Regions from separate parts of the Homo sapiens genome. Here region 1 is linked to region 2. A link means that fine-mapping ties the variant in region 2 to the expression of a gene that starts in the linked region. Tissue or cell type: monocytes. Region 2 holds a variant in brackets; the other region holds the start of a gene. All regions are shown on one strand. Distances are between the middles of the regions.

Region 1 (7,373 bases), 53 kb before region 2:
GAGCCCTGTGAAGACTAGCTGGAGAAGTTCAAGGCCTCAAATGAGATATTAGACTAATGAGGCTTTTGTCTAAATTTAACACATTTAACAAACCCTTCTTGGTTACTTACTGAGCTCTGCACTACCTAGGTCAAGCCTCATGTGGATATGAAAGACAGAAGGTCACATTTATCCTAGAGATTTGTATCTATATTGCAGGGGGAAAGGGATACGGACATGAGTTATGCTTATACTTGTCCATGTTTCTTTTCTCTCTCAGGAGGGATGATTCAGAGTCAGCAATTCACATATGCAGTACTGCACATGGAAAGTATTACTGTTATTCTGTGGGGAAATAAGTTTCTAAGTGCAGCAATCTGAAATTAATAACTTTCTCTGTGGAAACTCTCTTGACAACATCTCGAGATGAAGCCAAAGAGCACAATTTTTATGGCTTTGGATTATCTTCTCTGTCTGCTTGGCTTGCACCAGGCATGGATCTGTGAGCCAGAAATTCAGTTTTCCCCTTCGTTGTACAATTTGCCTGCCAGCTGGAGGCCTAATATAGCAGTGACTCAATTTCTCAATTCTCCAATTTATCCACCCATCAAATCAAGGCAAATAATCTCAATTTACTTATTAGAGGCTTTGGGGAACTCAAGAAAAAAAAGACCAAAATCTTTACCGTGACTACAAAACATTTTGGTTGAGGACATAGGAAAAGGAGATTAGAAGTTGGAGATCAATTTTCTTTTACTTTCAATGCAAAATATTTCTATGATAAAGCCTGTTATTTATATTATGATAAATATTTGTGTCCACATGCAGGGAGTATATAGATATTGAGGGAGAAAGTAATTTAGGAAAGAAATAGAAGGGTAGCAACATCTTTTCCACAAAAGCCACAGCACTGCAGACATGCATAAAGATTGCAGTTGTTGCTCCAATAGCCTTATGTGGTAGGCCGACAAATTCTTTTTTCTTTTTCTTTTTTTTTTTCAGAGATTGTGTCTCACTATGTTGCCCAGGTTGGTCTCGAACTCCTGGCTCCTGGGCTCACGTGATCCTCGAGTCTCAGGCTCTCAAAGTGCTGAGATTACAGATGTGAGCCACTGTGCCCAGTGGACATTCTTTTTTATTCTTTCTTACACGTAAATGTAGACAATCTGGACAAAGAAGTCTGGATTTCTACTTTCCACTGCTGACATTTTAAAAAATTTCAAATTAGATTTTTGCACCCTTTATACAAGACTACATGGCAGGACATTATGTTTGATTCACTGTACCTGATTACATTTAAATGTTGTTTTTCTGGATTATAAACAACAACTGAGGGACAGAGTAAGGAGGCTCTAAATAGACTTGAGAGCTTGGAATGTTGCTACATTTGTTCGCTCTCCCAGCATGTTAATATGTGAGACTAATACTTGGAAATAGCGACAGATATAGAGGAGTTTGGATGCTGAGAGAGAACTCAAAGTGAAGATGGTAAACATCTAGAGTTTTTATTGATTACAATTTTCTCATATATACAGAAACCTCAGGGTGTGTTCTAAACACAGTTCTCTTTTAAAATACATAATTAACTAAACTTCAAAATTAGAAGCTAAGACAATAATCATATTAATATAACCTCTACACTGCCAACTTGGAAAGGCAATGAAGAAGAAATGGGAATTGCAACAAGCTTCAGAGATGGAAGATTTTGTTTTTCTCTGTAGGACATGTGGGTAGAAGCAATTGCAGATGGCTGGGTGTGAAAGAAACAGACCTTGCAAGCCTGCTATATAGCTATACTGTGCTACATGGCATTGGGAGGTAATAAGATTTAAAAGACAAATACTCTTGTCTTCACAAAGCTTATAATTTAGTTGTGCAATACTGGGTAAGAAAGCTGGCTTAATGGAGTTGTATTCCAGCTTCACCCCTTAGTAGCTCTGTGTCATTGGGTGAGATATTTAATTTCTTTGGGCATAACTTCCTCATCTGTGAAACACTGATAATTGTATCTCCTATATGGCAGCTATGCCAGCCTCCTTTCTGTTCTTCCACAAGACAATCTCTCTCTGGACCGCCCTTTGCACCTGTTCCTGTGGTCGGGAAAGCCTTTAGCATGGCCAAACCCTTCAAGTTTTGACTTCATGTCACCGAGTCAGGGAGCTTTTTTGGAAAATATTGTTTCCGATTCCGCAGATGAGGCTGTTAAAATACTAAAGGATGGCATAAACATGAGGATGCTATTATAATCATCCACCCTAAGTAGGATTTGAGATCCAAGCAGTTCTCAAGGATTTAGGGTTAGCAAACTTTTTCTGTAAAATGTCAGATAGCAAGTATTATAGGGTTTGCAGGCCATACCAAACAAATGGGTGCTGCTGTGTTCCAATAAAACTTTATTTATGGACACTGAAACTTGAATTTCATGTACTTTTCACAGTCATGGTGGCAGACCGGATTTGGCCCCCTCCCTGTCGCTGGCTGACCCCTGGTTTATGAGTACGGCAGATAAAAGAAGGGAGTGAATAAGAACCACGATTCTGCTGCCAGACACGAGGGATCAGGTCGCTGCTGTGAAGATTGTCAACCTCTCTGGTTGCCAACGACCTCGAGAATGGGGTTGTGGTCCCTGCGTCAGGGCGGTTGTGCTGAAGGCTGGATGAGGGCACGTAGGTGAAGCTCAGTGCTTGGCACGAGGTGCTCATCAGCAGCATCGCCCTTGCTTTGGGCTGGCCTGTTAGTAATTCGTTTTTAGTGGAATCGAATACAACACTTGAGCCTCGGAGGCTCAGGTCGTCGGAGCAACTACACCAGGGCCGGTGCACCTCGGGGCGGCGGCGCAGGACTAGGCTAGGCCGGGCCGGGCCGGGCAGGGCGGCGCGAGTCGGGGGTGGGGCGGCGGCGCAGCGCCGTCGTCGTAGTCCCCGCCTCTTCCCCAGGGGCCGCGTCGGAGCCTCGGCGGCGGCGGCGGTGCTTACAGCCTGAGAAGAGCGTCTCGCCCGGGAGCGGCGGCGGCCATCGAGACCCACCCAAGGCGCGTCCCCCTCGGCCTCCCAGCGCTCCCAAGCCGCAGCGGCCGCGCCCCTTCAGCTAGCTCGCTCGCTCGCTCTGCTTCCCTGCTGCCGGCTGCGCCATGGCGTTGGCGTTGGCGGCGCTGGCGGCGGTCGAGCCGGCCTGCGGCAGCCGGTACCAGCAGGTAAGCGGCGCCCGACTCCAGCCCCGAACTCCGGTCCCTGGCTCTGCCCTGCCCGCTGGCCGCCTCAGGCCTCTCTGGCCGGCCCGCGGCCAACTCGACGCCGGGGCTTGGCAGGCCGCGCTGGGCCTGGAGGGGCGGGTCGGGCCCCGGGCTCGGATTCGAGGCTGCCACGGGCCCGGCCTGCCCGTCTGCGACCCCAGGTGGGACTCCGGCGGTGGAAAGTCCTCCTCCCGGCCTCGTTTCCCGCATTTCCCAGGGCGGGCGGGTCCCTGAGTCAGAACCCGCGACCCACAGGCGGCATCGATCTGAGGCATTCGTTTTTCATTTTTCCACCTTTGGTTTGATGTCATTGGAAAAGAAAGAAAGAAAAAAGCATGAAACGGAAACTGGGTGGAGAGAAAAGATTAAAATCTCTGCTGCTGCCGATAGCTCCCCACAGCAAGATGCTATTGCTCAGGGTTTCAGAGCCTAGTTTGTCGAAACCCATCCCCCTCGCCTCCGTTTTAAGACAAAAGTAAAAAATGAAGCAAGAGACAAGCCCGCAGTTTGCAGTAGATTTGGAAGAGGCGATGTTTGGCTGTGGTGATGCCCCAAAAGGGAGAGCTACGATGAAGTCTGCAGGGCGTGTGCCGGGTGTATTTTAAATGCTTGGAAGTGACGTTTTAAGAGATTTGATGGCATAGCTGGGGAGGAAATGTATAGGAAATGATTGGATCATTTTCTCGGGTTTGATTTAATACATTGAGGCCCCAGGGAAAAGAGCTGCTTGTTTCACTCCGCGTCTGTAGCTAAGTTCCCCCAGGAAATTTAGAGACCTTCTGCAGGGTTTTTGGAAGTGTTAATCTAACATACAGTAATGGTGGGAATTGAGCCAGGTGGTAAACTGATGTTGATTGGAACCGCAAATAACGGCTTGTGTTTGTCATGTTTCAGATGCTTTCGGTGCATACAGATGTCAATCCTCCTTTTATCAAATAAAATGTCCTATCTTAGACGATCTACAATTTTATATTTTAGAAGTAAGGAAAGCCAGCCAGTACGATGAAAACGTAGATTAACCCTGGTGCGGCCGGCCGGTTACTGGTTTGTTTTGCTATCATCAGCCATGTGTTGCAATCCGTCCCCACTCAGGCTTGGACTCCCAAAATGACTAGTTAAGAATTTCACTTCTTGGTTTTATAAACACGGCCCAAATTGTGGCAATGCAGTTAATCCTTAGATCTCTTCAGAGCACATGGATCTAGCACATGCTTTTTTTCTATGACCTTGGGCAGCCTGCGGGTTCCTTACTGCTTTAATAAAATGGGAATAACAGATGCCACTTAACTGTCACCACAGTGTTTGCAAATCACCCCTACTGTATACTGTCATCTGATTTCATCCTTTTCATCCTGACTTGGATAAGGCTAACGAGCAAAAGAGCTGTGGTTTTTCTTTGTACTGCCATCTTCTTGAGCTATTAGGTAATGCTGACATACTGCTAGAATATAAAAAATTTGCTGGAGTATCAAAATCATGTATTCCTTAGTGTGGCATTTAATATTTTTTAATTATGCAGAATTGAAGTATAAAAAAAAGAGAAAAAAATCTTCCTAGAAAAATTGTAAAAGATGAAAGCCCAAAAAACTGCAAAACCCTCCCTAAACAAAAACCAAATAGATAACCAAAGGTAATATTTTAATGTGCATTCTTGTGGGTTTATAGCTATGTAAATATACATAGTTATAGATCAGTATATGTGTGTACAGATAAGGAATGCAGGAAAGCTAATATTGATTTTTTTATGCAACAATCACAGTATTAAGTAATTTACATCCATTTTTTTTTTCTTTTAATTCATACCAAACCCTTATGAACCAGGGTTTGTTCTCATTGTCAAAGACTCAAAGTGGCTCAGTAACTTGCCTCAAGGTCACAGGCTGCTAAGTAGTGATTATAAGGATATACACACACTCACCTACTTAAAACACAGGCTCACAGTCCAGATATAGGTGTATGCATTAGCAGATATATACACATGCATATGTATTCTCTTATGTACCCATATATACGTATACAGACATATCTTTGTACATTTGTGTGCAGTTTTATGAGCCCCGATCATACTTGCACATACTTTTGCACGTGTCCATGTGTATCTTGTTCTCAGACATGTGCATTCATACATTTGCACATGTGTATCATGCACATGTATCTACAAAGGCATGCTAGATAAATAATGAAATAGGTTCATAATTCTATTTTGTAATGTTCTTCACACAATGTTATTAATGTCTTCTATATAAAATATTTTTAATGTCTGCATGGCATGTAATTGTATGGCTGAATCATAATTTAACTAATTGCTTATCTTTGGTCACTAAGAATGTTTACAGTTTTTTTCATTGAAATTTATTTCACATACGTCTTCAACCGTTTCCTTAGCATAAATTACTAGCCATGGAAATGCCTGGTCAGCGAATATGCATTTTTAAAAGGCTTTTGAATTATAGAATGATGGTGAATTGTCCAGGCAACTTGATAGGAGCATGATACTCTTTGGTTGTCACACAGGGCTGTTCTGACTTCTATTTGATCTGGTTAATCAAATTGAGCTAGTTTTCTCACCAAGTAAATGTAATGGAAAACTGTATGATTCATTCATAAATGCAAACACAGTTTTGTCTTTATGGTCTTTTTATTGGTAGTGTAATATGTGGACAACTTGAATTTAGCATAGTGACAGACTATGCAGAAAGGGTAGGCTCAACCAGGTGTGGTGGCTCACACCTGTAATCACAGCACTTTGGGAGGCCGAGGTGGGCGGATCACTTGAGGTCAGGAGTTCGAGACCAGCCTGGCCAACATGGCAAAACCTTGCCTCTACTAAAAATACAAAAATTAGCCAGGTGTGGTGGCACTCACCTGTAATCCCAGCTACTTGGGAGGCTGAGGCAGGAGAATTGCTTGAACCTGGGAGGCAGAAGTTGCAGTGAGCCAAGATTGTGCCACTGAACCCCAGCCTGGGTGACAGAGTGGGACTGTCTCAAAAAAAACCAAAACAAAACAAAACAAAAAATGGCCAGGCAAGGTGGCTCATGCCTGTAATCCCAGCACTTTGGGAGGCCAAGGCAGGCAGATCACAAAGATCACGAGGTCAAGAGATTGAGACCATCCTGGCCAACATGTGAAACCCCATCTCTATTAAAAATACAAAAATTAGCTGGGCGTGGTGGCGTGCACCTGTAGTCCCAGCTACTCAGGAGGCTGAGGCAGGAGAATCGCTTGAACCTGGGAGGCAGATGTTTCAGTGAACTGAGATCGTGCCACTGCACTCCTGCCTGGCGACAGAGCAAGACTCTGTTTAAAAAAAAAAGCACGGTGTGGTGGTGCACATCTGTAACTCCAGCTACTTGGGAGGCTGAGGCAGGAAAATCACTTGAACCCAGGAGGCAGAGTTTGCAGTAGGCTGGGATCGCGCCACTGTACTCCAGGTTGGGTGAGCAAGACTGTCTTAAAAAAAAAAAAAAAAAAAGGCACCGAGGTGGGCGGATCACAAGGTCAGGAGATCGAGACCATCCTGGCTAACATGGTGAAACCCCATCTCTACTAAAAATACAAAAAATTAGTTGGGCGTGGTGGCACGTGCCTGTAGTAGTCCCAGCTACTCGGGAGGCTGAGGCAGGAGAAACCCGGGAGGTGAAGATTGCAGTGAGCCGAGATCGCGCCACTGCACTCCAGGCTGGGCGACGAAGTGAGACTCTGTCCAAAAAAAAAAAAAAGAGGCTAGGCTTATAGGTTCCCCTGGCATTATTTTATTTTTTTTTTCATTTTTGCCTTTTGAAACTGAGACTGTCTCAGACAGTATGGAAGCACTATTTTAGAAAGACCTAAGTAGGCCCATACTGAGTGCTGAGAAACCTGTTGCGTGTTTCTCTCTCTGAGGACGTTAACTCCCGTTCATCCATAGATGAACGCAGATCTTCTGCGGTAGATGTGTGCATGAATTTTGCCAATTCATTTCAAGTATTTTGGGATACTTGGATTTGAATTCAATGTAAGTGGGTGATGATGACACTGCCATGTAGGTTCAAACAGATTACAGAATGTTTAGTTCTGGACTTGCCTCATTACCTGCTAAAGAAGTTGCCCACTTGTGAGCATCACCAATACTCTGTATGATAGTTTGATGACATTATAGTGCAGATTTTGGAATGGTATA
Region 2 (7,373 bases):
TATATTTTTTTTTTAATTCTTCCTTTATTTGGGTCACTTTGCTTTACATATGTTTATGTCTCCAAAAAGTGGTTGGATACCCTCTTGAGAGGTTTTCTTTACAAAAAAGAAAGAAAAAAAAATCTGAAATTCCAAAGCCTCTTTCCCTGCCATTGTAGCACTTAGGCAAAAGCATGAAGAACTAAATCCACTAGACTGTAGTTTAAACTTGAAAAAACAAAAACAAAAAACCCCAAAAAGACTATAATGTGCTTTAGAGTGGCATTTTTATACAAGTGACTCATTGCTAGCAGTATATTGACCATTTTAAAGTGCAATCTGATCTTTCATGGGTAGACATTTAAATTCTCTGAGTACAGACACTGTACTTGGGACAAATTATTATATTTGTACCTTGGTGCCAATCTTAATCATGTACTCATTGGGTGCTTATTTTCAAATACCTGATCCTTCTAAAAACAGTATACTAAAACCTGTTGTTAAACATATATCAAGTTTAATAGCAAGCCATGGATACTTTTTACTGCCTTTTATTTATTGCTGGGTGTATTTTATTAGAAGGAAAGGTAAGTAAATGTGTTTTGCAGAAAATATGTAGTATAAGTCAGCTCCAGTAGCAGTTATTATTTTTTAACTAGATGGCGGAGCATTTACACACTTAGTTTATTAGTGACCTTCCCATAAAATTTTTAGGAACACAGGGCCAAACAGAGGTCATAAGTTTATCCAAGCCAACCCACTTCTTTGGTGACATCAGACAACTGAAGAGAAGCCAAGAAAACGTTCCCTCCATCTTCAAATTCTATGTGTCCTTGGCTTTGCCTCCATCCATAGTGGTTTATTCCCCTCAGAAAGAATTGCAGATGGAATTTGTATAATCACCTGTGTTAGAAGTGATGATCTACTTTGAAAAATACAGTTTTTATGTATTATAAATAATTGTGCTCTGCCTTCTTGCATATAGTTGCTTTGGGCCTTTATTTGATAAAAACTATCTTATTAGCCAGTTATGACATACATGACTTTATGCTGGATGTAGTATATACAAAGATTTGTACAAGACAGCCCCTGAACACAAGGAGGTTTTAGTCTGGGAGGAGATTGGTAGGAGACAAAGTGCTTTCCTGTCCAAGAAATCTTAATATGTAATGTTTTTCTGCTTCGTTTGCATAGTGATGGAAGAAGCTTTTTACACTTTTCAAGCTTGCTGCTAACTTAATTTTCACCAGAAGGGCACTTTTAAAGATGTTCGTAAAACCAAATGCCCTCAAAGGAGAGATTACTGCCACTTGAAGAGGCCACCCCCAAAAGGGCCAAAAGGATGGGGGAACATCTCAGGGTGCTATGTGGCCAGGACCTAGAAAACCAGCTGCCAAGGGGACTTGTGACTGTTAGCCTAGGGCTTGAGCCCTCGCTCCCCATTTACTGGCTGTGTAATCTTGGGTCATTTGCATGTCCTATCCAAGCTTTGGTTTTCTAATCTGTGTGCTGGAATATTTTCTCACAGGGCCATTTTTAGGGAGGTAAAGTGCCCAGCATCTAGCAAACAGCTCTTCACAGCTGATCAGCTATAGTATTGGGTCTAAGGGCAGGACATGAAAAGCCCAAACCTATAATTCAAACCGAGGGAATTCATTTCCTTTTCAGGACCGTATAGCTCTCATAAACCCTGCCTTTCCTCATTCCTTCTTTCCTAAATGTCATTAGGCCATCCCTGATAAATCAGATCATTCTTATCCTCCTAAATTCCTGCAGCCCAGATGAGAATATGATTTACTATTGCTTTTCTGGTAATATTATCATATGTTTATGTGGGAACTTATATACATGTTCATTTGATCTTCACAGATTACTATAAAAGGGATTATTTTGCGTTCTTTACCACCAAGCAACCAAAGCCTCCCTCCCCCGGCAAATAATTTTCCAACACTCACTAACATCAAAACACTCTACAGATTCAATAAACTTTGATTCTCATTTCCTTTCCTGAGTTCTATAGGCTGAAACTCTGGCCTCTTTTTTGCTTAGTCCATTTGTATTACATTACAAGACTTGCCGTATACTATCTTTGTATGGATTTAGGTATTCGAAGCAGCCTTTGAACTTCTTATCCTTTGCTTTGTTTCTTTCTGCACTGGCCTTACATTCTCTGCTCTTTTCCCTGCCCTTTCCATGTCTTCTTTGCCGCCCTCTCGACACCTCCCCCTTCCCCTACGTTTCCAGTGCTGCTTAGATCACTCTTGTTACTTCTCTGTCCTAAATTCCTACACAACTGTAGATAGGGCCATTTTCTCAGTGGCCGCTCTCCCTTTCCTTTCTCCAAATCTTAACCCTGGGCCATTTGAACCCTAGTTACTTCTTTTTTTTGTTTTGTTTTGGTTTTTTGGTTTGTTTGTTTTGAGACGAAGTCTCACTCTTGTCCCCAGGCTGGAGTGCAATGGCGTGATCTTGACTCACTGCAACCTCCGACTCCTGGGTTCACGTGGTTCTCCTGCCTCAGCCTCCCGAGTAGCTGGGATTACAGGCGCCTGCCACCGTGCCCGGCTAACTTTTGTATTTTTAGTAGAGATGGGGGTTTCACCATGTTGGTGAGGCTGGTCTCGAACTCCTGACCTCAGGTGATCTGCCCGCCTTGGCCTCCCAAAGTGCTAGGATTACAGGCGTGAGCTACCGCGCCCGGCCTAACCCTAGTTGCTTTCTATCTTCCCATTCCATCTAGCCGCATCCAACAAGAAAACCACATGCCTGCTTTCTCTTCCTGAAGCTCTCCAAGGAACGTTCCTGTATGCCCCTGGATAGATGGTTCCAGCCTGTGTCTGTGCCCCCCAACCCAGTCCTGCCAATCCAAGCCTGCCCAGATAGGGCCTGCCTGTTTTCCCCTTTATTGGGGGATCTGGGGAGCTTTTCACAGTGGTGGCATTTGTCACAGTGTTCACAGGCTCACCTCTTCATGCCCCTTCAGTACTAGTTTGGCTTGGCCATTAAACAGAAAGCATTGGGGTGTCCTCTGCTCTTTGTTCTCTCTCACTATATAGATCACCTCCAATGGCATCTGCATGAATCTATGACAACTCTCGGGCCTCCATGGAGAAGCACCTGGCTAGTCCCAAATTTCATAATCCTTCTGATGCTTCTGAATTACCTTCCACAAAACACTAGGATTCTATAAACTTTTAATTGGAATTTTATCTTTTAAAAACAGCCTTAATCATGTAATAAGATGTATTTTCAAATATGTGTTCAATTGTGTGGTTATTTGTGATCTCATTTACAGACATGAACAAATACTAAAACAATATATAAATAAATTTACTCAGAGTATTTGGGATCTCAGATTTTGTTTTACAAAAAGGGTTCTGCAGCT[G/GA]AAAAAAAAATGGCTTGAAAACCACTGCCCTAAGTAAACACTCATCTCTTACTTTGCCTAAAACTGTTAGACCGTTATACATTTTTTTTCCTCCGTCAATCTTACAGGGGTTTCAAAATGCCCTGATTTTGCAAAACTTATGAGCACATCTAAAAAGTCACTTTCTAAGCCTACTATCTCCAAAAATCAACTGTTTGTTCTTTTTCAGACTTGTTTTTGTGAATTTATTATTTTTACATAGGTAGTACTAGCATACTGGCACAGCCCAGTGAGATGAGGTCTCTTAAGCCATTCTGTTTATATCAGATGTTAAATTTTTTAAATAGTCTTTGCTGCAGTGTAGATTATCTTGTCTTTTTCTGCTTTTCAGCTCGTTCTGACAAATGCCCCATGATGTTTTTGTTTTTGTTTTTTGAGACTGAGTTTCACTCTTGTTGCCCAGGCTGGAATGCAATGGTGCCTTCTCGGCTCACTGCAACCTCCACTTCCCTGGTTCAAGTGATTCTTCTGCCTCAGTCTCCCGTGTAGCTGGGATTATAGGCGCCCGTCACCACACTCGGCTAATTTTTATATGTTTAGTAGAGACGGAGCTTCACCATTTTGGCCAGGTTGGTCTCGAACTCCTGACCTCAAGCGATCCGCCCTCCTCGGCCTCCCCAAGTGCTGGGATTACAGGTGTGAGCCACCACAACTGGCCTCGATGATTTTTTTTTTTTTTTTTTTTGAGAAGGAGTTTCGCTCTGTCGTCCAGGCTGGAGTGCAGTGGCGCAATCTCGGCTCACTGCAAGCTCCGCCTCCCGAGTTCACGCCATTCTCCTGCCTCAGCCTCCTGAGTAGCTGGGACTACAGGCGCCCGCTACCACACTCGGCTAATTTTTTGTATTTTTAGTAGAGACGGGGTTTCACCGTGGTCTCAATCTCCTGACCTCGTGATCCGCCCGCCTCGGCGTCCCAAAGTGCTAGGATTACAGGCTTGAGCCACCGCGCCCAGCCGATGATGGTGTTTTTAAAGCCAACTTCTAATACCTCTTTTTTCCATTGCTTCATTGCCAAGAGGAATAATTAGACTGTTGCAACAATTATGACAAAGGCGTCCTATACCCTTGGTCTTCTTTCATCCATAGGGCATCCAGAAGAGACCTGGTTTCTCTGTTGATTGGAAGTTCACATCAAATTCCTTGACCCTGGGATTAAACCTACAGTAAACATGTGTATTTTTGTGTTGCAGATGCGTATCATAGATGGATAGTAATGAATACCATTTATTGAGCATTTATCATGTGCGAAGTACTCTGCTTTCTTCTTCACAGGTAGATTTAATCATCTCCCCAACCCTTTGAGGTAGGGAATACTGTGATCCTTGTTGTATATTTTTAAAAAAATGGAGACTCATGTTAACTGACTTGCCCCTTACCGTCCTTAAGTGGGGAGGCTGGGATTAATTTGGTTTGTGTTGTTAGAGCATGAACTCTTTAACAACAATAGAACACTCATCATCTTTCCTGTGTGTGCACCTGCTTCCATTTCTTTTTATTCTCCTGTCCCTTCTTGATCTACACTTTAACACATTCCTTTCTCTTCCCACAGGATTCCCTTTATTGAAGGTGGGAATGAGGGGGATTCTGGACTGCAGGCACAGGACATCTGCCCTCCCACAGCAGCCTGAGATGTTTTCTTCTTTGTGCATGTTCCCCATGAAGTGGGCTCATACCCCTCCATCAGTGTGCCTCCCCACCTCACCTGGAGCGTGGCTTCAGTGCCCCCACCGCCACCCCCAGCTTGTACTGCAGGGTTTTTTTTTATCCTTTCTCTAAGCCAGTGAGATAGGCACAGCTGATAGTATGAACCTTTCTAGCTAAGAGTCAGATCAAGTGCTGGACAGAGACATGACAAGTTCTCTCAATTAAGCAAAATGGTATCTCGAGACAGGATTTCAATTCTAATTTCATATTAATAGCTTACATTTATTCAACATTTATTGTGTTCAAGTGCTGCTACAGTCCTTTTCACGCAGAATCTTTTAACCCTCCAGAATTGAACAGCAACAGCGCTATTATCCCTATTTTACACTAAAGGAGCTGGCTCCCAGAGAGGTCAGGTCACCCGGTGGACGGAGCAAGAATCCAAATCAAGGCATTCTTGACCACTAACCAATACTTCTCCCCCTACCATCATCCCTGCCCCCACCCCTTTTTATTTTACAAAGTTAACCCGTGTTTATTATGGAACATCTTAACTCTGATTTTTAGAAATCTGCCTTCTGTCAATAGCGCAAAATAGAGTGTTTCATTAGCCTCTTAAAATGCCAGCAATTGTAATGTATACAGATGTGAACCTTCATGGGAAGAGCGTGTCTTTATGTTAGAGAAGAGTGAGTAAAGCTGCCCAGTTGAGGTCATATATATTGACTTATCTGCAGGAAATATTCATTTAGATTTGAGAAGTTATGATTGTTATCAGTCTCATCCTTTAAATTTAACTTTTATTTTTTATACTCAATATTTAGATCAAAATCTGTTGCAAATCTGAAAGGAAGCTATAATCATTTACTGTTATCAATATACCTTTCTAGTAGCCTTATACATAAATGCTCGAATCTAGTCCTTCTCACACTTTAATATGCCTACAAACTACCTGGGAAGCTTAATAAAATGCAGGTAATAGTTTAGGAGGTCTAGGCTGGGGCTTGTGATTCTGCATTTGTAAAAACTTCCCAGGTGATGACCAAACTGCCTGGCCAGAATCAAATTTTCATGAGCAAGTCTCTAATCCACATTAATATTCAAGAAAAAAAAATTAAATTCAAAAGTACAACTTTACAGCCTGGGCCTGATGGCTCACATCTGTAATCCCAGCACTTTGGGAGGCCGAGGTGGGCAGATCACCTGAGGTCAGGAGTTCGAAACCAGCCCGGCCAACATGGTGAAACCCCATCTCTACTAAAAATACAAAAATTAGTTGGGCATGGTGGCACACGTTTGTAGTCCCAGCTACTTGGGAAGCTCAGGCAGGAGAAACTTGAACCCAGGAGGTAGAGTTCGCAGTGAGTAGAGATCACACTGCTGCACTCCAAAGTGAGACTCCATCTCAAAAAAAAAAAAAAAAAAGTAGAACTTTACAAACACTACAGTGCATTTTCTAGAAAATTTTTTCTAGGCCGGGCGCGGTGGCTCACGCCTGTAATCCCAGCACTTTGGGAGGCAGAGGTGGGTGGATCACGAGGTCAGGAGATCAAGACCATCCTGGCTAACACGGTGAAACCCCGTCTCTACTAAAAATACAAAAAAAATTAGCCGGGCGTAGTGGCGGGAGCCTGTAGTCCCAGCTACTCAGGATGCTGAAGCAGAAGAATGGCCTGAACCCGGCAGGCAGAGCTTGCAGTGAGCCGAGATTGTGCCACTGCACTCCAGCCTGGGCGACAGAGCCAGACTCCGACTCAAAAAAAAAAAAAAAAGAAAAAGAAAAATTTTTCTAAATCTCCATTGTTAAGAGATCACTGTGAGGTAGGGTAGGGAGTGTGGGGAAAGATTGGGGCCCCCAGGTTTGAAGATCAGCTTGGTCTTGCCTGTGTGCATGTATCTGATAAAATGCAGGAAAAGTTTGTCTCTTCCCCACCCTCACTTCCACCCACTGTGAGGCTTGCTCATGTCCAGATTGGGCTCAGGATGGCAGTTGTGGATGCTCAGAGCACAAAAGGCTTCTTGTTTGCCCAAGGGCCTATCAGTGTTTAAATAGAACTGGCGGAAGCACAAGCACACCGTATCAGCAGCTTATCAGGGACCATGGTTTTCCACGTACATTTGCTAGGCACTTCAGTTTACCCAACTCCATCAGCACTGAGTTAAATTGCAAGGTTGGGCTGTACTACGCTGAGCCAGGGCAGGGAGAACAAGCCAGTTACTGGGGATGAGGGTGTCGGGGGGGCCCTCAAGACCTTATTTGCATTCTGCCCACATAGAGAATAAAGCTGTGATAGCCTGTGTACTAAGAGGCACCCAAAGAGAACCAG

The links. PIP is the estimated chance that this variant, and not a neighbour inherited with it, causes the effect.
Region 1: NDFIP1 starts here. The variant in region 2 is fine-mapped to the expression of NDFIP1 in monocytes (TOPMed, PIP above 0.99). The same link has a PIP of 0.9 or more in whole blood.

Annotation. Positions count from the first base shown.
Region 1 is chr5:142,105,866-142,113,238 of GRCh38, forward strand. NDFIP1 (Nedd4 family interacting protein 1) reads left to right here and starts at 2,914. Exons shown (of 8, transcript NM_030571.4): 1 at 2,914-3,172. The coding sequence starts at 3,110. RefSeq lists an enhancer at 2,665-3,166 and silencers at 2,744-3,013, 3,074-3,203, 3,274-3,343.
Region 2 is chr5:142,159,290-142,166,662 of GRCh38, forward strand. The region is part of intron 2 of LOC107986455 (a long non-coding RNA gene); the gene reads right to left. It overlaps LOC124901096 (a long non-coding RNA gene), which reads left to right and starts at 4,285. Exons shown (of 2, transcript XR_007058978.1): 1 at 4,285-4,674; 2 at 4,952-7,373. The variant G/GA (reference allele first, on the strand shown) is at 3,365.